3 separate regions of the Homo sapiens genome follow, and all the other regions are linked to region 2. Evidence: fine-mapped expression QTL. A gene starts in region 2. Each other region holds a variant in brackets. All regions are shown on one strand. Distances are from middle to middle.

What was found.
Region 1: its variant is fine-mapped to the expression of DNTTIP1 in blood mononuclear cells (TOPMed, PIP above 0.99).
Region 3: its variant is fine-mapped to the expression of DNTTIP1 in ileum (GTEx, PIP 0.96).

Annotation. Positions count from the first base shown.
Region 1 is chr20:45,824,223-45,832,399 of GRCh38, forward strand. TNNC2 (troponin C2, fast skeletal type) reads right to left here and starts at 3,090. Exons shown (of 6, transcript NM_003279.3): 1 at 3,024-3,090; 2 at 561-612; 3 at 273-416; 4 at 70-184. The coding sequence starts at 3,026. The variant C/T (reference allele first, on the strand shown) is at 3,773.
Region 2 is chr20:45,788,271-45,796,447 of GRCh38, forward strand. DNTTIP1 (deoxynucleotidyltransferase terminal interacting protein 1) reads left to right here and starts at 3,684. Exons shown (of 13, transcript NM_052951.3): 1 at 3,684-3,839; 2 at 4,407-4,477; 3 at 5,651-5,747; 4 at 7,075-7,173. The coding sequence starts at 3,735. It overlaps WFDC3 (WAP four-disulfide core domain 3), which reads right to left and starts at 3,613. Exons shown (of 7, transcript NM_080614.2): 1 at 3,562-3,613; 2 at 1,624-1,712; 3 at 661-789. The coding sequence starts at 1,705. RefSeq lists silencers at 3,767-4,036, 4,247-4,386.
Region 3 is chr20:45,811,970-45,820,146 of GRCh38, forward strand. UBE2C (ubiquitin conjugating enzyme E2 C) reads left to right here and starts at 675. Exons shown (of 6, transcript NM_007019.4): 1 at 675-827; 2 at 1,468-1,495; 3 at 2,415-2,501; 4 at 3,572-3,776; 5 at 3,885-3,944; 6 at 4,740-4,983. The coding sequence starts at 727. The coding sequence ends at 4,798. RefSeq lists a silencer at 478-667 and an enhancer at 6,646-7,294. The variant A/G (reference allele first, on the strand shown) is at 3,158.

The sequences.
Region 1 (8,177 bases), 36 kb after region 2:
AGCTTCCAGCGCTGCCGGCCGGGTTCTGACTGCTAAGCCCCTCCCTCGGCTCCCGGGCCCCCAGCGCACCTGTCGAAGATGCGGAAGCACTCGGCCAGCTCCTCCTCGCTCTTCCCTTTCGCGTCCTCTTTCATCTGGCGCACCATCATGACCAAGAACTCCTCGAAGTCGATGGTGCCGCTGCCTGCGGGCAGCAGGTGGCAGACTGAGCCTGAGCCCAGCCGCTGCCGCCTCTCCCCACCATCCCCTGCCTCCGAGGGACACCCGCTCACCGTCCTCATCCACCTCCTCGATGATGGCGTCCAGCTCCTCCTTGGTGGGTGTCTGGCCCAGCATCCTCATCACCGTGCCCAACTCCTTGACGCTGATGTCCCCACCACCATCAGCATCAAACATGTCAAAGGCAGCCTTGAACTCTGCGAGGGAGGGCAGAGGGCAGAGGTGAGGCCTGCTGGACTGTCAGCCTCACACCTACCCCCCCCCAACCCCCACCCTGCCTAGAGGCCAACATGTCCCCAGCATACATCCACCCAGCCCCCAGCCTGCCGCGCCTCACTCACCAGCGATCATCTCTTCGCTGAGGTAGGACCTGGCCTCAGCCTGCTGGTCCGTCTGCAGGAGACACAGAGAAAGTCTGAGCTGAAGAGGCAGCCCCAGAGCAGTTCCTCACCTCAAAGCCATTCTTCCCAACCCCCACTCTGTCAGCGCCCTTGGTTCTCCAGAAGAACAACTTCAAACTTGTCACATAATTGTGTGCCCGCACAGCACCCAATCACAGTTTTGTTTTGTCTCGTTCTGTCACACATGCTGGAGTGCAGTAGTGTGATCATAGCTCACTGCAGCCTCAACCTCCTGGGCTCAAGCAATCGTCCCACTTCAGCCTCCTGAGTAGCTGGGACTATAGCATACACCACGCCTAATTTTTAAAATTTTTTGTAGAGATGGGGTCCCACTATATTACCCAGGCTGGTTTTGAACTCCTGGGTTCAAGTGATCCTGCCACCTCGGCCTCCCAAAGTGCTAGGATTACAGGCTTGAGCCACTGTGCCCAGCTTCTGACCCCAGTTTTTGTTTTTGCTTTTTGTTTTTGTGACAGTCTCGCCCTGTCGCCCAGGCTGGAGTGCAATGGCGTGATCTCGGCTCACTGCAACCTCCACCTCCTGGGTTCAAGCGATTCTCCTCCCTCAGCCTCTCGAGTAGCTGGGATTACAGGCATGCGCCAACACGCCCAGCTAATTTTTGTATTTTTAGTAGAGACGAGGTTTTACCATGTTGGCCAGGCTGGTCTTGAACTCCTCACATCAGGTGATCCGCCCACCTCGGCTTCCCAAAGTGCTGGGATTACAGGCGTGAGCCACCATGCCCGGCCTGACCCCAGTTTTTTTTGTTTGTTTGTTTTGTTTTGTTTTGAGACGGAGTTTTGCTCTTGTTGCCTAGGCTGCAGTGTAATGGCACGATCTCAGCTCGCCACAACCGCAACCCCCACCTCCGGGGTTCAAGCGATTCTTCTCCCTCAGCCTCCCGAGTAGCTGGGATTACAGGCATGCACCACAACGCCCGGCTAATTTTGTATTTTTAGTAGAGATGAGGTTTCTCCATGTTGGTCAGGCTGGTCTCGAACCCCCTACCTTAGGCGATCTGCCTGCCTCAGCTTCCCAAAGTGATGGGATTACAGGCGTGAGCCACCGCGCGCAGCCTGTGACCCCAGTTTTGAGCAAAAGAGAGGAGACAACAAGTTAAGCCCAAGGCCTTCTCACTTGTCAATTGAAGGCCAAGTCGGGAACCCCCCCCACCCCCCAGTGACCTTAGGCACGTCAATTAGCGTGCCTTCATCTTTTCTCTGTAGCTTTTCAGGGATGAGATATCAGGGGTGTGAAAGGGCTTTGTAAAGGGCTAGCACCATTCCAGCACTATTTTCCAGTTTTCTGCAGCTCCTAATGGTGCCCGGTACTTTAATAGTTGCTCAATAAAATGTTTGTTCTCAAATAAATAATAATGCAACACAAAGTTATTGAGTACTTGCTGCATGTCAGGCCACAGATCAGGCACTGGAACCACAAAGAAGAGATAAAAGACACATCATCCCGCCCCTCAGAGAACTGGCAGAGTCGGAGGCTGTCAGCTTCCTTCTTAGGATTCAGTCATTGGAGAAAAGGCCCCTCATGGGGGGCCGAATGTGATGGAGGCCTTGACATGAAAGTGAGATTTCTGCAGGGGTTTCCACGTCATATCCAAGCCAGGCCATCTGGGTCAGAGGCTTTGGATTGAGGCTGGCAGTGAGGACAGGGTGAGGCTTCCAAGGAGCTCTTCAGCCAGCTGGCCACCAGTGCTCCTCCTTCTCCCCCTCCTTCCTCTCCTCCTCTTTCCCTATGCCAGGAGGGCAGGCTATTTTTAGTCAGGCATGGGCAACAGCAGCTGGCCTCTGGGATCTAGTTACTCCTTGAAGTGAAGTGGGGAGGGGGATCTCAGACCAAAACAACAGCTCCAAATCAGAAGCCCTCTCTAGGAGAGCGGAGTCTCTCTAACTCTGGTCTGTCATCTTCTGCCCCTTCCCATCATCCTCAGGGCTCCCAGAGCCCTGCATCTGAGCAGGCCCCACGCCCTGCCGGCCTCCCGTCTTCTGGAGGAGGCTTTCTTCTCTCCATGATGATAGGAGGGTTTGGCCAGGCTTCTGGCTCACCCCTGCCACTGGCCTGCTGGGTGACTCACTCTGACCCCTCAGAGTCCCCACTGTGTGAAGGAAACAAGCTAAGAGCTCTTCACAGGTCTATGAATGACACTGCTGGAAGTTTCCAGAAGTGAGTAGGCAGTCAGCAAGCCTTAAGGATCAATCTCTGGAATATCCCAGCCCTCCCCTTTCAAGAAAAGTCAAAGGCCTTCCTCCAAGACACCTGGGTTCCAGGAACCTCCATGCTCCAACCTCAAACATCCAAGTTACTGCCCCACAGAGCACCCAGGCCTGGCCTGAAAGGGGTCCAGAGTGCTCCCGTGAGTAAAGGCACAAAGTCCCCTCTTGTCCTTACCATGGTTGCTGGTGACCGGGACTCCTCTGTTGCAGGTCGCCTCCTTTGCACTCCACCACCCAAAGATGACCTGGCCTGCTCTAGCCCCCGGGATTTGTAGGGGCACCCTCCCCTCCCACCTCCCTGCTCCCCAGCACTGGAGACCCTGCCCAATCAGATCCTGGGGTCAGCGAGTCCCACCCCTCCCACAGTCTGAACCCATTACCTAATTTAGCCAAGGGCCCTTGCAGAGAAATTTAAGCCTCCAAGCAGGTGGCAGGCCTTGACGTCCTAGATTCTTGTGAGGAAGGCCTGCCCTGTTCCACTGCCTTGGAGTCCCCCCGACCGAGGAAGCACACTGGCTCCAAGATGGTAAGGATGATCAGAGTAGTAAAGGGTGAGGCAGCATGGTAAAATGGGGAGAGTACAAGCCTTGAAGTCCAAAACCCAAGATCCAAGGCCAGCCTCTGCGAGTTGTGTGACCTTGGGCCGGTAGCAGTGCCTCTCTGAGCCATTTCTTCATCTGTGGGATTGGACCTGTCTGTGGGGTCTCCCTCACAGAGAGACCATGGTAAATGGGAACCCGGGTATAAGTCACCTAGCTTGTGCTGGGTACACAGCGTTGGTGCTTGGCAAGAGGAATGTCCCGTCTTTGAACCATGGTAAGGGGCAGGGGATAGGAGGAGAAAGTGACAGGTAGGCCACTGTTTACTGAACCCCATGACGTGCCACACACTGTGCTAAGCATTTTAACATGATCTCATCTAGTG[C/T]TCCTCCTATGAGGTAGCAACGATTATCCCCACTTGACTGCAGAGCTTTGTAAATTATAAAGGTCTATACTCACTCTGTCACCAAGGCTGATGTGCAGTGGTGCTATTATAGCTCACTGCAGCCTCTATCTCCTGGGCTCAAGTGATCCTCCCACTTCAGCCTCCCGAGTAGCTGGGACTAGAGGTGCACCACCACCCCTGGCTTTTTTTTTTTTTGTATTTTTATAGAGATGGGGTTTCACCATGTTGCCCAGGCTGGTCTCGAACTCCTAGGCTCAGGGGATCCTTCCACCTTGGTTTCCCAAAGTGCTAGAATTACAGTCATGAGGCACCATGCCCACCCATGTTGATGATTCTTATTATTAATCCTGACTGGAGGGAAGTTGGGACAGACAGTCCTTGGGGCACCTGTCCAGATGGAAAAATGTATGGAGGGATGGAGGAGAGGAGGATGTGCATTTGGAGGAGAAATAATCATTGAAAGCAAAGATCCTTCTCTGAAAGTTACCTTCTCCAGGGAAAGGGTGTTTGGATTCACTTTTTTTGAAGTAAGGAGTAGGCAGGGGAAGGTTCTTTAAGTGGTAAAAGGACAGCTGGCCCCTTCCTAGAGCTCAGTGAAGAAATCTGGTCATCTGGGGAGTAAAGGGGTGGGCAGACCAAGTCCAGAGGGAGCCCAACCTGAGAATCCACAAGGTGCAGGCTGGGCACTGGGGAGTAGGCAAGGCTTGTAGACAGTGGCTACGTGGACAGAAAGAGCACCAAGACAACCGATAGCAGGCTCTGGGGCCAGGAAAGGGGGGCTGGACACCAAGGAATGCAGATGGACAGTGGCAACTGGGCTGCCCCCTTCCCCTATATATAGACATTCCCAAGGAAAGCTCAGCAGGGCTGGGCCAAGCTAAATAAGGCCTCCCCCAGGCAGGCAGGGTGCCAAAGGGTGAGGGAGACCCATGGGATTCCAATTTAGTTTTTATTGTTTTTTGGTTTTTTGGGGTTTTGTTTTTGAGACAGACTCTCACTCTGTCACCCAGGCTGGAATGCAGTGGCACAATCTCGGCTCACTGCACCCTCCGCCTCCTAGGTTCAAGTGATTCTCATGCCTCAGCCTTCTGAGTAGCTAGGATTACAGGCACATACCACTACGCCCAGCTAATTTTTGTTTTTGGTTTTTTTTTTTTTTTTTTTTTGAGACAGAGTTTTGCTCTTGTTGCCCAGGCTGGAGTACAATGGTGCAATCTCGGCTCACCACAACCTCCGCCTCTTGGGTTCAAGCAATTCTCCTGCCTCAGCCTCCCGAGTAGCCGGAATTACAGGCATGAGCCACCATGCCCGGCTAATTTTGTATTTTTAGTAGAGACAGGGTTTCTCCATGTTGGTCAAGCTGGTCTCAAACTCCCAACCTCAGGTGATCCGCCCACCTCAGCCTCCCAAAGCACTGGGATTACAGGTGTGAGCTACCACACCCGGCAAATTTTTTACTTTTTGTAGAGACAAGGTTTCATCGACCGGGCACGGTGGCTCAGGCCTGTAATCCCACCACTTTGGGAGGCTGAGATGGGCGGATCACGAGGTCAGGAGATCGAGACCATCCTGGCTAACACAGTGAAACCCCATCTCTACTAAAAATACAAAAAAATTAGCCGGGCATGGTGGTGGGCGCCTGTAGTCCCAGCTACTTGGGAGGCTGAGGCTGAGGCAGGAGAATGGTGTGAACCTGGGAGGCAGAGCTTGCAGTGAGCCGAGATCACACCACTGCACTCCAGCCTGGGCAACAGAGCAAGACCCCGTCTCAAAAAAAAAAAAAGTTTCATCATGTTGGCCAGGCTGGTCTCAAACTCCTGACCTCAAGTGATCCGCCTGCCTCAGCCTCCTAAAGTGCTAGGATTACAGGCATGAGCCCCTGAGCCCAGCCTTTGTTCTTTTGTTTATTCAAGGGATTAGGTAAGGCCCAAATTGCTTAATGTAGCCAAGCAAGGTCCCATTGGCCCTTCTAATCTCACTCCTTCCCTCCACATCATGTTGCTGTCTGCTCTGATCAGACTTTAAAATACTGCTCTAGGCTGGGCACGGTGGCTCATGCCTGTAATCCCAGCATTTTGGGAGGTGCAGGCTGGCAGATCACGAGGTCAGGAGTTCGAGACCATCCTGGCCAGCATGGTGAAACCCTGTCTCTACTAAAAATACAAAAAATTGCTGCTGGGTGTGGTGGTGGGCGCCTGTAGTCCCAGCTACTTGGGAAGCTGAGGCAGAAGAATCACTTGAACCTGGCAGGCGAAGGTTGCACTGAGCCAAGATCATGCCACTGCTCTCCAGCCTGGGCGACAAAAGGAGACTGCATCTCAAAAAAAAAAAAAAAAAAAAAAAGACTACTCTAAACACCACCTTCTATGAACCTTCAAGCCTTTGCACATGCTGTTTTTTTCTGCCAGAAACTCCCATCTTTCCTCTCTTCATCTGTCTACTTCCCTATCATCTTTCTAAGCTCTAACATCACTTCCTCGGGGATCCTTCCCCCACTGTGTCCAGACCAGGGAGTCCAAGGTGGTCTCTAGTAGTTTCCTCAATCATAGCACTGAGCATACCTTATGCTCACAACCCATTCTATGTTCTACAGATCATCACATTTCCCAGTGCTCAGCACTTGCTATGTAGCAGGTGTTCAACAGATATTATATTCTACATAAGAATAACTGAACTGGATGGTATTTAGTTCAATATAAGGGGGAACTTCCTAATAGTCATAGTTGAACAATAATGGGAACAGGTGGCCTCAGGAGGTAATGAGCTCCGTATCACTGAGTATACCCAAACAGGAGCTAGATGACCATTTCTCAGGGAGGCTGTAGGGAGATATCCATACAGAATTTAAGAATGGGGGCAGTGGCTCACACTTTTAATCCTAGCACATTGGGAAGCTGAGGCAGGTGGATCTCTTGAGCCCAGGAGTTCAATACCAGCCTGGGCAACATGGCGAGACGCTGTCTCCAATTAAAAAATTAAAATAAAACAAAGAATGGTGGGTGGTAGCTCATACTTGTAATCCCAGCACATTGGGAGGCAGAGGTAGGAGGATCTCTTCAGGCCAAGAGTTCAAGATCAGCCTGGGCAACATGCAACCCCACCTTTACAAAAAATAAAATACTAGCCAGGCATGGTGGGCACATATCTGTAGTCCCAGATACTTGGGAGGCTGAGGTGGGAGAATCACTTGAGCCCAGGAGTTTGAGGCTGCAGTGAGCTATGATCGCACCCCTGCACTCCAGCCTCACAACAGAGTGAGACTCTGTCTCTGAAAGAAGAGGCCGGGCACGGTGGCTCATGTCTCTAATCCCAGCACTTTGGGAGGCTGAGGCAGGTGGATCATTTGAGGTCAGCAGTTCGAGACCAGCCTGGCCAACATGGTGAAACCCCATCTCTACTAAAAATACAAAAATTAGCCGGGTGTGGTGGCACATGCCTGTAATTCCAGCTACTTGGGATTACTTGTAATTCCAGCTACTTGGGATTACTTGAGGCAGGAAAATCGCTTGAACCCAGGAGATGGAGGTTGTAGTGAGCCAAGAGTGTGCCATTGGACTCCAGCCTGGGTGATGGAGTAAGACTCTGTCTCAAAAAAAATAAAATAAATAAAAATAAATAAAAAAGGAAGAAGAAGCAGGAGGAGGAAGAAGGAAGCAAAAAGAAGAAGAAATAATAATAGTGGAGAATGCGCAACCTTCAGATCTCCTAGTTCTGACTGTTTATATGACCCAGCATAAGCCCTTCCCCTCACTAAGCCTCAGACTACCTATCTGTAAAATGGAGGTGATAGGCCAGATTTCTGAGGGGCCCTCCTGCTCTAACAACCCATGGTTTCATGAAGACCAGCTTTGTGCCCAGACATGTAAGGCATATACCGAAGGACAAGTTATTTTTTAACCAATGGTTGGTGAATGAGTGAGTGTTGAATTAATGAATGAAGTATGCCTTTTTTGTCCCAATATCTTGCCCATAAGCCAAATGAAGAGTAATTCGAGGTTTGAAATTGTGCAAACTGGCCAGGCACAGTGGCTCACGCCTGTAATCCCAGCACTTTGGGAGGTAGAGGCAGGTGGATCACTTGAGGCCAGGTGTTCCAGATCAGCCTGGCCAATATGGTGAAACCCCACCTCTACTAAAAATACAAAAATTAGCCGCATGGTGGCACATGCCTGTAGTCCCAGCCACTCAGGAGGCTGAGGCAGGAGAATTGCTTGAACCTGGGAGGCAGAGGTTACAGTGAGCCAAGATTGCATCACTGTACTCCAGCCTGGGCGACAGAGCAAGACTCTGTCTCCCTCTCTAAAAATAAATAAATAAATAAATAAAATTGCACAAACTTAGGCTTAAAATCCCAGCCCCTCTATTTCCCAGATGTGGATCTTGG
Region 2 (8,177 bases):
TCTAGTCTGAGCAACAAGAGCGAAACTCCGTCTCAAAAAAAAAAGAGAGAGAGAGAGAGAAAATAGTGCCTGGCAACACCCACGGGCACAGCAGAAGGGAAAAACAGAAAAAGGAAGTCCTGAGATTTATTTAAGCCTCTCAACCCTGGTGCTAAGACAAAGAGACAATAATAACAACAATAGTAATAGCAAATATTTACTGTAACATTTACTGACGTTTACCTTGTGCCATGAACATCTTATTTGATCCTCACAATTATCCCCATTTTATAGATGAGGAAACTGAGGCTAAAAGCTTAAGATTTATAAAGAGCTAAGGCTTAAGGCTTAAAAAGGTCTGCTTGGCTCTAGGGTCTACTCTCTTAATCATTATCTTACACAGCCTTCCCTTTACAACTCTTCCCTCCAGCCTTCACAGGAACTTTGAGTCCAAAGTAAAAGACATAGATAATCAATGGTGCGCTCTTTCCTGATGGAAGGCAAACAACTGGGGGCACTGAATAATTAAAGGAGGAGGGACCCTAAAAGAGTAAAGAAGAAGTACTCTAGGCAAGGGAGACTTCCAGAGGCAACCTAGAAGGTGGGAAGCTCTCTACTTCCATCTATCCCAGAGGCAATGTCAGAGAGTATGCCCAGATTTTGCCCCTCATGCCAACATACCCTTAGGAATGTCTCGGCAGATCCGACCACAGCCTGTGGTGCAGCACTTCTGTTCAGCCGGACACAATTCATCACCCTGGCACAGCTCTTTGCATGGGTTCTTATGGGGAGGGCATTCTCCCTCTTTTGCTGCAAAAGATACTATTTGAGTTTGGGGTAACTAGCCAGGCCTCAGAAATGGGGAATGGACCTTCAGCCCCTCCAGGCATCTCTATCCAAAATATTTCTGCACCACTGCACTCTAGCCTGGGTGACAGAATGAGACCCTGTCTCTTAAAAAAAAAAAAAAATTCTGGCTGGGCACGATAGCTCATGCCTGTAATCCCAGCACTTTGGGAGGCCGAGGCGGGCGGATCATGAGGTCAGGAGATCGAGATCATCCTGGCTAACACAGTGAAACCCCATCTCTACTAAAAATACAAAAAATTAGCTGGGCGTGGCGGCGGGCACCTGTAGTCCCAGCTACTCGGGAGGCTGAGGCAGGAGAATGGCGTGAACCTGGGAGGTGGAGTTTGCAGTGAGCTGAGATCACGCCACTGCACTCCAGCCTGGGTGACAGAGTGAGACTCCATCTCAAAAAAAAAAAAAAAATTCTGCAACCACCTTCCCCTCCTCATACACAAATACTAACATATATCCACCACTGCTAAAGGAGCAGCCATCCTGCAGATAACGAGAGAGAAAGGGTGGGATGATCCTGTTCTCATTTAATGAGTTCTAGGGAAAAGCTAGAACCTCTAGTAAGCCCAACTGGAAGTCCTATCTCCTTGTCCAGAGAGGGTAAAGAAAGCCAGGAAGAATGACCCAGGCCATCCTGAGAATCTATTCATCCAGTCCTGTCCTATAGAGATGATCATCTCCACTTACAAGCAACCTTGCTCTGGGAGAAGGCAGGGGATGAGTTCTCCTCTCCTCTAGTCACTTTCTGTTACTGTTGGCCAGGGATCCCAAATGATAGCTCACCATGTTCTCCTGCAGTTATCCAGGATTCCAGAGACCCAAGAGCAAGAAGTGCCTTCAGAAGAAAGAGGCAGCTTAACATCATGATGATGCTGAGAGTTGGGACAAGAGCTCAGTTCAGGCTAGAGGTGTACACCTTGCCCAGAGTATCAGCTGAGGTATGAGCAGGACTAGGGATGGCCCCAAACCCAGTCCCAAAACCTTCCCTTTCACAATACTCCCCAAGAATATCTTCTCCTGACAAGAAGAAGAGGGATTGGCTGCTGGAGTGTGGGAAAATTCCTGGCACTACCAAAGGGGACCTGTGATGGGAGGATCAAATTCTGTAAGCAATATACACAATATTCCTGGATGATGAGAAACCTAGTGGGTGGCTGGAAAAATGGAGGGGTGGCCATTGGAAAAAGAATCAAAGAGAGCCCTAAAGGGCATTGGAAGGACATGGCTTTAGCCCAAATAACAGAGGGAGGGATTCACGACACTACTTAATGGCCAAAGCTAATAACATAACCAAGCATAATAAAATTGTGGCTCCTGTTCATCCTAGCAACCAAGAAAATACAGAATGGAACAGACCACTCAGAAACTATCAAATAGGCCAAGGCGGGCAGATCACCTGAGGTCAGGAGTTTGAGACCAGCCTGGCCAACATGGCGAAACCCTGTCTCTACTAAAAATACAAAAATCAGCTGGGCATGCTGGTGCATGCCTGTAATCCCAGCTACGTGGGAGGCTGAGGCAGGAGAATAGCTTGAACCCAGGAGGCAGAGGTTGCAGTGAGTGGAGATCATGCCACTGCACTCCAGCTTGGGTAACAGAGTGAGACTCTGTCTCAAAAAAAAAAAAAAGAGAGAAAAGAAACTATCAAAAACCTACAGAAAAGCAGTAGTTGAGTTTGTTAAGAACTAATGAAAAGCACCAAACACCTACATCTTTGTCCCTCTAACCCACACAGGCCATTCTTGGACTGTATGAAGTCTAGCTGGCAGAACCCAAGAGAAGTTGCTATGTATGACTCAAATAGTCTGCCCACATATACCTCCTTTATTTCTTTTTTCTCCATTTCTTTTTTTCTTTATCTGTCCTGGTCATGCCTTTGGTTAGCTGTGATACCTAATGGTGTCCACTGGCACTGCTTAGTCCTATGGGCAGGTACAAGGTAAAACCTCCTTAATAGGATCAAAAAGTTTGGAGCCAGGAAGTCGCCCTTATGGTTAGAAGGCTGATGTTGGCTCATGGAGATAATTAACATTTGATGATGACCTCATATGTGCCTAATATGCTTTTTTTTTTTTTTTTTTTTTTTTTTTTGAGACAGAGTCTCCCTCTGTCCCCCAGGCTGGAATGCAGTGGCGCGATCTCGGCATAATTAACATTTGATGATGACCTAACATGTGCCTAATGTGCTTTTTTTTTTTTTTTTTTTGAGACAGTCTCCCTCTGTCGCCCAGGCTGGAGTGCAGTGGCGTGATCTCGGCTCACTGCAACCTCCGCCTCCTGGGTTCAAGAGACTCTCCTGCCTCAGCCTCCCGAGTAGCTGGGATTACAGGTGCCCACCACCACGCCCGGCTAATTTTTATATTTTTAGTAGAGACGGGGTTTCGCCATGTTGGCCAGGCTGGTCTCGAACTCCTGATGGCAAGTGATCCTCCCGCCTCGGCCTCCCAAAGTGCTGGGATTACAGGCGTGAGCCACCGCCCCTGGCCGAGCATATTAAAATCTAGTTTTCAAAAACTGAACTGCAGGCGCCGCTGTACCAAACGCTTCCCTCTGCTCCCCAACCCCAGCCTACAGAAAACTGGTCCCTTCCTCCTACCCCGCAGTCATCCCCAGGCCTTGGCCCAGCGGGAAACATCCCTTGACTGAACCGCCACTGAACACCCACACTGCACAATCGAGGCGCAGCCCTCCCGAGAGGAAGCCCCAACGACCTCCACCTACAAGGCCTCTAAGTGTAACTGTCCTGGGCGAGGCGCGGCGGTTCGGTTCCCATGGTAACCCCGCAGCTCCAGCGTCGCGCTTCCGGGCGGACGAGCAGCGCGCTCCAGTGACGTCACGGCGCCACTTTCCGGCCGGTGACAGAGTCCAGCGGAGTTGTGGGGGCCGGGGGCGCCATGGGAGCCACTGGCGACGCCGAGCAGCCGCGGGGACCTAGCGGGGCCGAGAGGGGCGGCTTGGAGCTGGGGGATGCGGGCGCAGCGGGGCAGCTGGTTCTTACGGTGAGGGCGCCCCCGGTGAGGTCTGGGCTCAGGCCGGGCACGGCCTCGGGGCTCCTGGGACCCTGGCCCGCGGGCGAGAGAACGCGGAGGCTGGAGCTGCAGAGGGGGTTGGCGTTTTCGCAGCCCGACGACCTGGATTTAAATTCTGGTGCCGCCCTCCTAGCTAGGTGACGTGGGCCATCTCTGTCAACCCCCTGAGTCCCAGGATCCTCTTCTATAAAATGGAAATGATTAGTACCTGTCTCATAAAACTTGTTGTGGGATGGGAAGATAAAGGCGGGTACAACGCCCCGGACATCACCTGACACAGAGTTGACCCTCGGTAAATACTGCTTCCCTTCCTCCTGCCGTGCCAGAAGGCAGGGTCGGGACTTTTAAGGCAGGAAACTTCCTCAGTTCCTCTTTTGTGGAGGAGGCCTTACAACTATCGTCCCACCCCAAGGCGGGAGAGATGGTGACGGATCTGAGAAGCAGGGATGTCCAGGTTTAACTTCATACCCACCCTCCACCTCCACCCCACCCCAGTGTCACAGGCCGCAGTGACATTTGTTCCGTTGGTCCCCACAGAACCCTTGGAACATAATGATAAAGCACCGGCAGGTGCAGCGGAGGGGCCGCCGCTCACAGATGACAACAAGGTAAGGCTGGCCCTGCATGGGGCTTATATCCCAGCCACTGGCTTGCATGGCAGATTTGGGATCCCCAGTGCACAAGGCTATGGAGATCTACAGCCGGTAGAAAGAGCACAGGACTGAGGAAGAGGAGACTCCGATTCTGTAACTCTGTGTGATCTTGAACTAGTCAAGTCACTTCCTTCTCTGAACTCACGTACAAAATGGGGAAGGGCACAGGAGATGGGTTGTGGAATAAACAATACCTAAGATCCCTCACATTCACTGGCTCTGTGGTTGAGGGCTCTAAAGAGGTCAGTTAGCATGGAGTTTAAGAGAACAGGCTCTGGAGTCAGACAACTGTGTTCTCATCAACAGACTCTGATGAGCCCGTTTTCTCAACTATAAAGAGGGATTAATAGTATGCATGTCAGGGAAGGGAGAGAGCACAAGGTGGGCCTTTGGGATGCTGATAGTGGTGAAATGGATGTTCACTATAATTACTCATTAAAGTGTATAGACTTTTCTGTATAAGTATTATATTTCATAAAAACACTTTGGGCCGGGCGCGGTGGCTCACGCCTGTAATCCCAGCACTTTGGGAGGCTGAGGTGGGTGGATCACCTGAGGTCGGGACTTCCAGAACAGCCTGACCAACATGGAGAAACCCCGTCTCTACTAAAAATAACAAAAAATTGGCCGGGCGCGGTGGCTCACGCCTGTAATCCCAGCACTTTGGGAGTCTGAGGCGGGCAGATCACCTGAGGTTGGGAGTTCGAGACCAGCCTGACCAAAATGGAGAAACCCGGTCTCTACTAAAAATACAAAAATTAGCCGGGCGTGGTGGTGCACACCTGTAATCCCAGCTACTAAGGAGGCTGAGGCAGGAGAATTGCTTGAACCCAGGAGGCAGAGGTTGCAGTGAGCCAAAACCACGCCACTGCACTCCAGCCTGGGCAACAGAGTGAGACTCCGTCTCAAAAAAAAAAACTTTGAAAATAATATGCACTTCATAGAGTTATTATGAGAAAGAAATAAAGTCATGCCTCTGTGATTTGCACAAAATCTGAGCATGTAGCTAGTTTTCAATAAAAGCTGTCTAGTATTGTTAAGGAATTCTATGTCCATAATTAACTGGGGAGGCTGGGAAAGAATATGTTTGGGACATGCCCCCTCACCCTGTCTCCCTCCTGAATGCAGTTTCACAGATCCTGCCATCTCCATGGATCTCCTCCGAGCTGTCCTGCAGCCCAGCATCAACGAGGAGATCCAGACTGTCTTCAACAAGTACATGAAGGTGAGAGGGACACAGGATAAAAAATAACAGGAGAAAGACTCATGAGGAGCCCAGTCCTTGCCTGCATCACCAGTCTGTCTCTTTCCTACATACAGATATCTAAAGTTTTCCTTTCTTGTTGTTTTTGTTTTGTTTTGTTTTGTGTTTTTGAGACAGATTCTCACTCTGTCACCCAGGCTGGAGTGCAGTGGCACAATATCGATTCACCGCAACCTCCACTTCCCAGGTTCCAGCGATTCTCATGCCTCAGCCTCCCTAGTGGCTGGGATTACAGGTGCCCACCACCTTGCAGGGCTAATTTTTGTATTTTTAGTAGAGACGGGGTTTCACTGTTGGCCAGGCTGGTCTCGAACTCCTGACCTCAAATGATTTGCCTGCCTTGGCCTCCCAAAGTGCTGGGATTATAGGTGTGAGCCAGGGCACCTGGTCAGTTTTCAAATTTTTAATCCCCCAAGAATTTTATTCCCTCCTTGAGGGTAATTCAGATACCTTTTTTTTTTAAAATCTGCCCTTGTCACGCACGTGGTTTTTTTTGCTGACCTCTTATAAGGATGAAGTGACTTAAATGTACTGTGCTGAGCACTGTGCTCCAGACATAACAAGTGTCCAATAAGTATTCTTATTAGTTGTTTAATAATATAACCATTATTGGGGCCATGCACAGTGGCTCACACCTGCAACCCCAGCACTTTGGGAGGCCGAGGCAGGATCACTTGAGGCCAGGAGTTTGAGAACAGCCTGGGCAACACAGTGGGACCTCATCTCTACTAAAAAAAAAAAAAAATTTTTTTTTTTTTTTTTGAGACAGAGTCTCACTCTGTCGCCAGGCTGGAGTGCAGTGGCACGGTCTTGGCTCACTGCAACCTCCGCCTCCTGGGTTCAAGCAGTTCTCTGCCCCAGCCTCCCAAGTAGCTGGGATTACAGGCATCCGCCACCACGCCCAGCTAATTTTTTGTATTTTTAGTAGAGACGGGGTTTCACCGTGTTAGCCAGGATGGTCTCGATCTCCTGACCTCGTGATCCGCCCACCTCGGCCTCGCAAAGTGCTGGGATTACAGGTGTGAGCCACCGCGCCCGTCCTGATTTTTTGCACTATTTACACCTCAATCTGTTGGGCACCCCCACGATTATATCCGTAAGAGGGGGAATAAAGGGAGGAGGTCAAGCCTGAAATGTGAATCTAAATCTGGCTGATCCCAAAGCCCTGCTCATAATCACTTTTCCCTTCTGTATGAAGCTAGGATAAAGACTTATTTTATATTCAGTTTCCTTCAGGTTGATGCACATTAACAGGACTCTGACCTTGTCCTCTGTTGTGCTCCCCTAGTTCTTCCAGAAGGCAGCACTGAACGTGCGAGACAATGTTGGGGAGGAGGTGGACGCAGAGCAGCTGATCCAGGAAGCCTGTCGGAGCTGCCTGGAGCAGGTGAGACCAAAGGGGACAAGAGATGCAGGCACAAGGTTTAGCTCTCGAGCCTCTGATAAGAAATGCGATCTTAAGCCGGACGTGGTGGCTCACACATGTAATCCCAGCACTGTGGGAGGCCAAGGTGGGCAGATCACTCAAGGCCAGGAGTTTGAGACCAGCTTGGGCAACGTGGCTAAACCCCATCTCTACAAACAATACGAAAATTAGCTGGGCATGGTGGTGCACGCCTATAATCCTAGCTGCTTGGGAGCCATAGGCACGAGAATCGCTTGAACCTGGGAGACAGAGGTTGCGGTGAGCCGAGATGGCACCACTACACTCCAGCCTGGGTGAAAGAGCAAGATTCTGTCTCAAAAACAAACAAAAAAAGAAATGTGATCTTGTCATCAGTGGTATTTTGGGGAATGCCCAGCAAGCCACATATTGAGATAGGCTTGAGGCTGTTGCTGACAGGGAAAGGAAGGGAAGTAGCTACTATATGTCAGGTACCAGGATAAATGCATTATTTTTTTTTATGTCTCAGAAGAAACTATGTACAGAAGATATCTTTTAATTACTATTTTATAGATGAAGAAATTGTGACTTAGCAAACTCATAGAAGCAGAGAGTAGAATGGCAGTAGCTGGAGGGGAGAAGTGGGGGGATGTTAATCAAAGGGTACAAACTTTTAGTTATAAGATGAACAAGTTCTGGGCAATCTGATGTACAGCATGATGACTATAGTTTATCTCTATTGTTTACTTGAAATTTGCTAAGACCATAGATCTTAAGTGTCCACACACAAAATGGTAGTGGTGGATGTGTTGATTGATTTCATTGTGGTAATCATTTCACTATGTATATCTATGTCAATTCATCACATTGTACACCTTGAATATATACCATTTCTGTTTATCAATTATACATCAATAGAGCTAGAAAAAAATTTTTAAAAGCAAAGCAAAAAAAAAAAAAGAAATGGCTTAAGACACATAATAATTAGAATAGCTAAGATCTGTCTC
Region 3 (8,177 bases), 24 kb after region 2:
TATCCTGTTGCTCAGGCTGGTCTCGAACTCCTGGGTTCAAGTGATCCTCCTGCCTGGGCCTTCCAAAGTGTTCGGGATTACGGACGTGAGCCACTGCGACCAGCCTGAACCAATGTTGCCTTTTTTTATTTCTGTCATCTCTGCGGAGATGTATGGACCTATGTTTTCTAATAGGGAGCCTGCTGCTCTGGCCATCAGCCTTTAGTTTTTCCCCTCGCTGGGATTTTCAGATACTTAGGACGCAGCAAAGGTGCCCAGGCGATTATAATGGTGGGAGGGTACCAGTGCTGCAGGATTGGAGGCACTCCCTGCCCGAGGGAAATTGGATCAAGGCTGGGCGTGCCGAGTGTTCCCACGCGGAGTAAGACGTGTAGCCAGAAGGAGGGGTTCATCCCACGTGGACGTTTTCTTGGCCCTTTAATGGTTAGCGTTTTCCAACGGCCACCAATTCGCTACGGATTCGTTAGTTAATGGCAGCATCATCTACCAATCGGTTGTCAGAAGCGGGATTCTGCCGCCCAATAGCGGTGCGCCAGTGGGTAGGTCTAGCAGTGGCGCAGCAATAGAGCGCTCCGGAGCGTCTCATTGGCTGGATCAAACCCAAGCGAGCCATTGATTGGTCGACGCCCCCAGAGGGTTACAATTCAAACGCGGGCGGGCGGGCCCGCAGTCCTGCAGTTGCAGTCGTGTTCTCCGAGTTCCTGTCTCTCTGCCAACGCCGCCCGGATGGCTTCCCAAAACCGCGACCCAGCCGCCACTAGCGTCGCCGCCGCCCGTAAAGGAGCTGAGCCGAGCGGGGGCGCCGCCCGGGGTCCGGTGGGCAAAAGGTGAGTGATGCGGCCTACCACTCGCCGGGCCTGCCATGCCCTAGGCATTGGTACCCAGAGCAAAGATTTCTAGGACCACCCCCCGCCGCCACCTCCTGGAGCGGGAGATCTGCGGGTGCAGGAGAACACACCAGGAGCTCGGGGCCTGGCATTCCCCTGGGCATGGGTGTCGAGGGCGGAGACTTCCGGGACTCCCACCTCCTTGCGCGGGTGAGATTCGAGAGATGGGGGACAGGCCAGGAGCTCAGACCGCTCTTTGAGACTCTCCCGAAGGAGAATGGGAGGGTAGGGGCGCTGCCAGACTCCTTCCCTGGTGGGCCTAGATGAAGACGCTCAAGGACCCTCGTGACTTGGCCGAGACAGGGGAAGGGAGAAGTTGAGTCGGGCAAGGAAGAGATGCTAAAGCCTGGGGAATTAAGAACATGCCAGAATCATCCCGAGGGAGTCTGGAATTAGGGAGGGTGAGGACTCGCTAGGATCGTCCTGTGGATCTGGTGAGTATACCCTGAGCTGAGCCTGACCTTGGTGATGTGGGGAGCCTCCATGACGGCTCCCCCTGAGATTCAGGTGGGAGAAGATGCACCGTCTGGAGGCCTGGCCCATCCAGACTCCCAGGTAACCCCGAATACTCTTTTTTCAGGCTACAGCAGGAGCTGATGACCCTCATGGTGAGTGATTAAGTGCCCAGAACCCCAGCCTTCCATCCAATTTTCAGTAGCCTCCTTTTTTCCGTCAGCTTTTTTGCTAGACATAGGGGTAATGTAATTTGCTCCCTCCTGGGAAAGAAGTTCATACACCCCACCTACACCATTTCTTCCAGCAGTCCCTCCTCCCAATTCCATCCCCCCACACGAAGTTATCTCGAACACTTCCCTGAAGTCATACAAGACCCTCCCTATCCAGTGTGTCCCTACTTCCTAGCCCCAACCAAGCTTTACCCACACCCAACTCCCCGCCCTTCTTGGTATTTCTAGCCTATGAATTTGGTTGCTTTATTTTGGATCAGAGTGATGAGATTAAGGGGAGGCTGGGCGCGGTAGCTCACACCTTATAATCCCAACACTTTGGGGGGCTAAGGTGGGCGGATCACTTGAGGTCAGGAGTTCGAGACCAGCCTGGCCAACATTGCAAAACCCTGTCTCTACTAAAAATACAAAAATTATCCAGGCATGGTGGTGCATGCCTGTAATTTCAGCTACTCGGGAGGCTGAGGCACAAGAATCATTTGAACCGTGGAGACAGAGGTTGCGGTGAGCCGAGCGCACCACTGCACTCTAGCCTGGGCGACAGAGTGTGTGTGTGTGTCTGTCTCTGTCTATCTCTCTCTCTCAATCTCTCTCTCTCTCTCTCTATATATATATATATGTAAATATATATTTTTTAGTAGAGATGGCATAACCCCATCTATATCTCATATATATACACATATATATGTGTGTGTGTATACATATATATGTGTGTGTGTGTATGTGAGCATATATATATATATATATATATATATATAAAATTAAGGGGAAAGCTCACCCACTGACCTTTGCTATGCCCAAAAGTGTACTCCACATTCCAACAAATGTGTTTTCTCCCCAGATGTCTGGCGATAAAGGGATTTCTGCCTTCCCTGAATCAGACAACCTTTTCAAATGGGTAGGGACCATCCATGGAGCAGCTGGAACAGTAAGTGTAGGGCTGGGATGGGTGAGTGAGTCTGGGGAAAGGTGGGAAGTGAGATCCAAGTGCGAGCTCTGCTTCAAGCCTTTGGCGGAGCAAGACACTCCTCCTGTGACTGTTTACATTCTCTGAGCCATGTGGCCTTGTTCTTTCCCTCTGTGCAATAAAGGGTGGGTTTAAAGCAGGGCTGCCTATCTTAGATGTTTACATGGGGGGACAGACAGCAAGGAAATGGATGAAGTGAGGACTTTGGCCAATAGGGCCAGATCTCAAGAAGGCAGCTTCCCATTGCTGCAGATCAGGTTTAAGATGAGTCAGAAGTCCAAATCTGTGCCAAATCTAATTTTTACGTATTAGCAACTAATATTCTTTTTTTTTTTTTTTTGAGACGGAGTCTCGCTCTGTCGCCCAGGCCAGACTGCGGACTGCAGTGGCGCAATCTCGGCTCACTGCAAGCTCCGCTTCCCGGGTTCACGCCATTCTCCTGCCTCAGCCTCCGAGTAGCTGGGACTACAGGCGCCCGCCACCACGCCCGGCTAATTTTTTGTATTTTTAGTAGAGACGGGGTTTCACCTTGTTAGCCAGGATGGTCTCGATCTCCTGACCTCAAGATCCACCCGCCTCGGCCTCCCAAAGTGCTGGGATTACAGGCGTGAGCCACC[A/G]CGCCCGGCCAGCAACTAATATTCTAATTGAACTAAAGCACAGGATGCCAATTTACAATCCTTAGACCAAAGAGTCACTGATGTCTCCACCAGATAAGAGGAAAGCATCAGGCTAGGCATAGTGGCTCACACCTGTAATCTCAGCACTTTGGGAGGCTGAGGCAGGCAGATCACATGAGCCCAGGAGTTTGAGACTGGCCTGGGCAACATGGTGAAACCCTGTCTCTAAAATAAAAACTAAACTAAAAAAACTTTTTAAAAAGGCAGTGGGGAGCATCAGAACCAGCTCAACAGTTTGTCTACTGTCCGGTCCCAGAGAAACTCAAGATTCTAGCAAGCCCCTTGTGTGGGGCTTGGGTTGGGACATGAGGCTGCTGCTGGAGCTTACTCTGCAACTGTTTCTCCAAATGCCAGGTATATGAAGACCTGAGGTATAAGCTCTCGCTAGAGTTCCCCAGTGGCTACCCTTACAATGCGCCCACAGTGAAGTTCCTCACGCCCTGCTATCACCCCAACGTGGACACCCAGGGTAACATATGCCTGGACATCCTGAAGGAAAAGTGGTCTGCCCTGTATGATGTCAGGACCATTCTGCTCTCCATCCAGAGCCTTCTAGGAGGTGACTTTAGAGACCACCCCTCCCCTCCATGCAACTTGGGAACCTGTCAGGACTCCCTGGGGTCAGCCTCTTCTACCGCCTTGACCTTCTCTTTCTCTCCACCCACAGAACCCAACATTGATAGTCCCTTGAACACACATGCTGCCGAGCTCTGGAAAAACCCCACAGGTGAGTCCTCAGTCCTTGAGCCCAGGGTGATCCCTCCCCCAACCTTCAAAGGCTCCCTCAAACAAAAGGAGCCCAGTGACTTGGGACCGGGTTGGTTGGGGCAGGGTGGAGTGTCGGCAGCAACCCACTTCTGTTTCTGCCCCAGTGCTCCTATTTGCTATAAAATAGCAATTGTTTTATAGCAGAATAAAAATGTTTGGCGATAAATAATTTTGGGAAATTATTGGTGAGACCAAGGCAGGAGGATAGCTTGAGGCCAGGAATTCAGTAGAGTGCCTTGCCTGTGCCCTCCAGTCTCACTGGAAGCAAGCCCTTCCAGGAGAGCTGCCTAGATGGGCAGTGCAGGGAGAATGCCGGGCTGGGAAACCAGCCCCTCCTCCACCTCCTCCGACCTTTGCATCCCTGGTCCAGCTGCCTCTTGCCCACCTTAATTCATCCTGGGCCAGGCACAGTGGCTCATGCCTGTAATCCTAGCACTTGGGGAGGCCGAGGTGGGTGGATCACATGAGGTCAGGAGTTTGAGACCAGCCTGGCCAACATGGTGAAACCCCGTCTCTACTAAATACAAAAAAAATTAACCGGGTATGGTGGTAGGCACCTGTAGTCCCAGCTACTCAGGAGGCTGAGGCAAGAGAATCACTTGAATCTAGGAAGCAGAGGTTGCAGTGAGCAGACATCATGCTATTGCACTCCAGCTTGGTCAACAGAGTGAGACTCCATCTCAAAAATAATAAATAGTAAAGATTAACTCATCCTGTCTCCATCACTCACTGAGACCTGCCTGTTCTCTTCCAGCTTTTAAGAAGTACCTGCAAGAAACCTACTCAAAGCAGGTCACCAGCCAGGAGCCCTGACCCAGGCTGCCCAGCCTGTCCTTGTGTCGTCTTTTTAATTTTTCCTTAGATGGTCTGTCCTTTTTGTGATTTCTGTATAGGACTCTTTATCTTGAGCTGTGGTATTTTTGTTTTGTTTTTGTCTTTTAAATTAAGCCTCGGTTGAGCCCTTGTATATTAAATAAATGCATTTTTGTCCTTTTTTAGACAAGTTGTTGCGTTGTAATTTCACTAGGGTTGGAGGTACTCAGGGTAGGCAGAGGTGGAACTTAAGGATGTGGGGCCAAGCAATGGGGTGACAAAGATTTATTCCCTTGTACCTTATTTTATGACTCTGCATCTGTTTCTTCATCTATAAAATGAGTGTCACAATAATGCCTCCTGTCTATGGAGTCGGTGATGTGTACCAGCAATGTTAGTGAATGTTGGAGCTCCCTCAGCTGTGTTGCAGATGAGGCTGAGCCAGACCTTAGGCTGAAACCTACTCCTATAGCTGTAGAAGGAACAAGCGTGTGTGTTGGGGGGGGGATCCCAACACACAGCCACCCATGTTCTGTCCTGAAGAAGAATGCTTAGGTCACCCTAAGCAGGTCCAGGGCCTGGGGAGACAGCCAGGAAAAAAGCCCCTTCCCTGGCAGGACTCAGGTCTGAGCTCTGGTCTCCAGGCTCTAGCCCAGGTCCCCGGTGGAGCTCCACCTCCAAGGGGGCACAGTCGCCTCCTGCTGCATATCCCCCAGGGAGCCCCCAGCCCCTTGGGCTGCCTCTTTCCCCTGGCCTGATGAAGGCTCCAGTCTTTGAGCCCCTAGGAGGAAACACCCCTGCTGACCAGCTGGGTCCCCACAAGGGTCGGCAGGTGGAAGAGTAGGTTGAAGTGATAGGGCCCCCACAAAGCCCTTCAGGAAGATCTCCAAGGTAGATAAGCAGCATCCAGATGTGCTCCAACCTTGCACCCAACTCCTTCAGGTCTGTTAGCAGCTGGTTGGTTGTGCAAGCCTGAAGCGGGAGGGGTTTGGGATTGGAAGTTGGGTCCCTTCATGTCTATAATTGTGCTCTTAGGTCTCTCCTCTTGGGTTTTTTCTTAATCTAACATTCATACAAATACACTTGGGATCTTGTTAAATTCTTTTCTGTAGGTGTGAAGTGGAGCCTAAGATCCAGTCTGTTTATTTATTTTGGTTTCTAAATAGTTTCCAAGTGATGTCATTGCTGCGGTCTGCTTAAGAACAAAATTTAGAGCAATGTTCTTAGAATGTGGTCCTTCCAGCAGCAGCAGCATCACCCGGAACTTGTTAGGCAAATTCTTGACCCCAAACTGCCCTCCAGGTTCTGAAGGTCTCCCACGGTTGAAAATCACTAGGTTAGCGGATACTGGAGAAAACCAGAGCTCAGAACCTGGCACTAAATTAGTCAATATATGCTGGCCAGGGCCGGGTGTGGTGGCTCACTCCCTGTAATCCTAGCACTCTGGGAGGCGGAGGCAGGAGGATTGATTGCTTGAACTTAAGAATTCAAGACCAGTCTGGGCAACACAGTGAGACCCCCATCTCAAATAATAAATTTTAAAAGAAAAATAAATAAATCTTGGCCGGGCCTGGTGGTTCACATCAGCAATCTCAACATCTTGGGAGGCCAAGGTGGGAGGATCACTTGGGGCCAGAAATTCAAGGTTATAGTAAGCTTATCACTCCAGCCTAGGCAGCAGAGTAAGACCTTATCTCTAAAAGAAATGTTTCGAATACTAACTGTGGTGGATGTGTTTTCATCTGCCATGTGGTCCTTGGTCACGGTGTTTGGTACCTTAGATGGCCACATGGCCTGCCTTGGGCCAGTCACAGGTCTAAACTGTAGTTCAGATTCAACTGGTGTTGTCTGGAATTAATCACTGGGAGAGAGTAAAGTTATTTTACTAATGGGGTTGCTAAAAGAGAAGGGAGTCAGTCTCAGCTGCTGGGGGAGCCCGCTGCAGACGGAAGAAAGCCAAGTAGAGACAAACAGCTGGGAGTCGGAGAGATGACATTAACTGAGACTCTGGCCTCCAGTTCATGCTTTGCCATCCCAGTTCGATAAACTAACAAATCCCTTTTTGGTTTAAGTCCGTTTGATTTAGATTTCTGGCACTTGCAACAGAAAGAAGCCTGGTCAGGAAGTATTTGAATTTCTGGTTATTATGATTCCCATTTTATTGAATTCCTACAAGACAAAGGCCCTCTGCTTGGGGCTGGGGACAAAACAGGGAAAATACAGCTCTGCCCTTAAAGAGGCTGGAATTTGGGGGACAGACAGGCCCATCAACAGCGGGGACTGCGGAATAAGTGCCATACAGCCCAGTTATTAAGCTCAGACCAGTCTGGGCACGGTGGCTCATGCCTGTAATCCCAGCACTTTGGGAAGCCAAAGCGGGTGGATCACCTGAGGTCAGGAGTTTGAGACCAGCCTGACCAACATAGTGAAACCCCGTTTCTACTAAAAATACAAAAAATTGGCCAGGCATGGTGGCGAGTGCCTGTAATCCCAGCTACTCGGGAGGCTACGGCAGAAGAATCGCTTGAACCTGGGAGGCGGAGATTGCAGTGAGCCGAGATCGTCCATTGCACTCCAGTCTAGGCAACAAGAGCAAGACTCCATCTCAAAAAAAAAAAAAAAGAAAAAGAAAAGCTCAGACCAGGTAAGCAGAACTGTTTCAGGATCCTGGCTCCACCTCCATGTTGCCCGTAAACATGTAGGCAGTTACATTTAACCTCTCCGTAAAATGAAAATACTGGTACCTACCTCATAAGACAGTGGAAGGACCTTAGAACAATGCCTGGCACATAGTAAGCACTGAATAAATGTTGGTGCTGAACTCACATATTGCTATGTAAGTTCACAGGTGGAGCACCCAATAGAATAGGAGGGTCAGGGAAAGGTTTTTGGAGAAGGAAATTGAGCCCTGAGGGAGATGCACATTCCTTGGATAGCAAGAAGTTCAGGAGTATGTAAGGAGAGGAATACAGAGCTAGGCGTGGTGGCTCACGCTTATAATCCCAGCACTTTGCAAGGCTAAGGCGGGCAGATCACCTGAGCTCAGGAATTCAAGACCACCCTGACCAACATGATGAAACCCCATCTCTACTAAAAATATAAAAATTAGCCGGGCATGGTGGCAGGCACCTGTAGTCTCAACTACTCAGGAGGCTGAGGTAGGAGAATCGCTTGAACTCGGGAGGCGGGGGTTGCAGTGAGCCGAGATCACGCCACTGCTCTCCAGCCTGGCTGACAAGCACAAAACTCTGTCTCAAAAAAAAAAAATAATACAGGATGGGGAAGTCGCATAGATGTCAGGTCATGATAGGCTGGAAGGCCATATTAAGGTACTTGGGCTAGCCTTGGTAACAAAGTGAGACTCCATCTCTACAAAAAA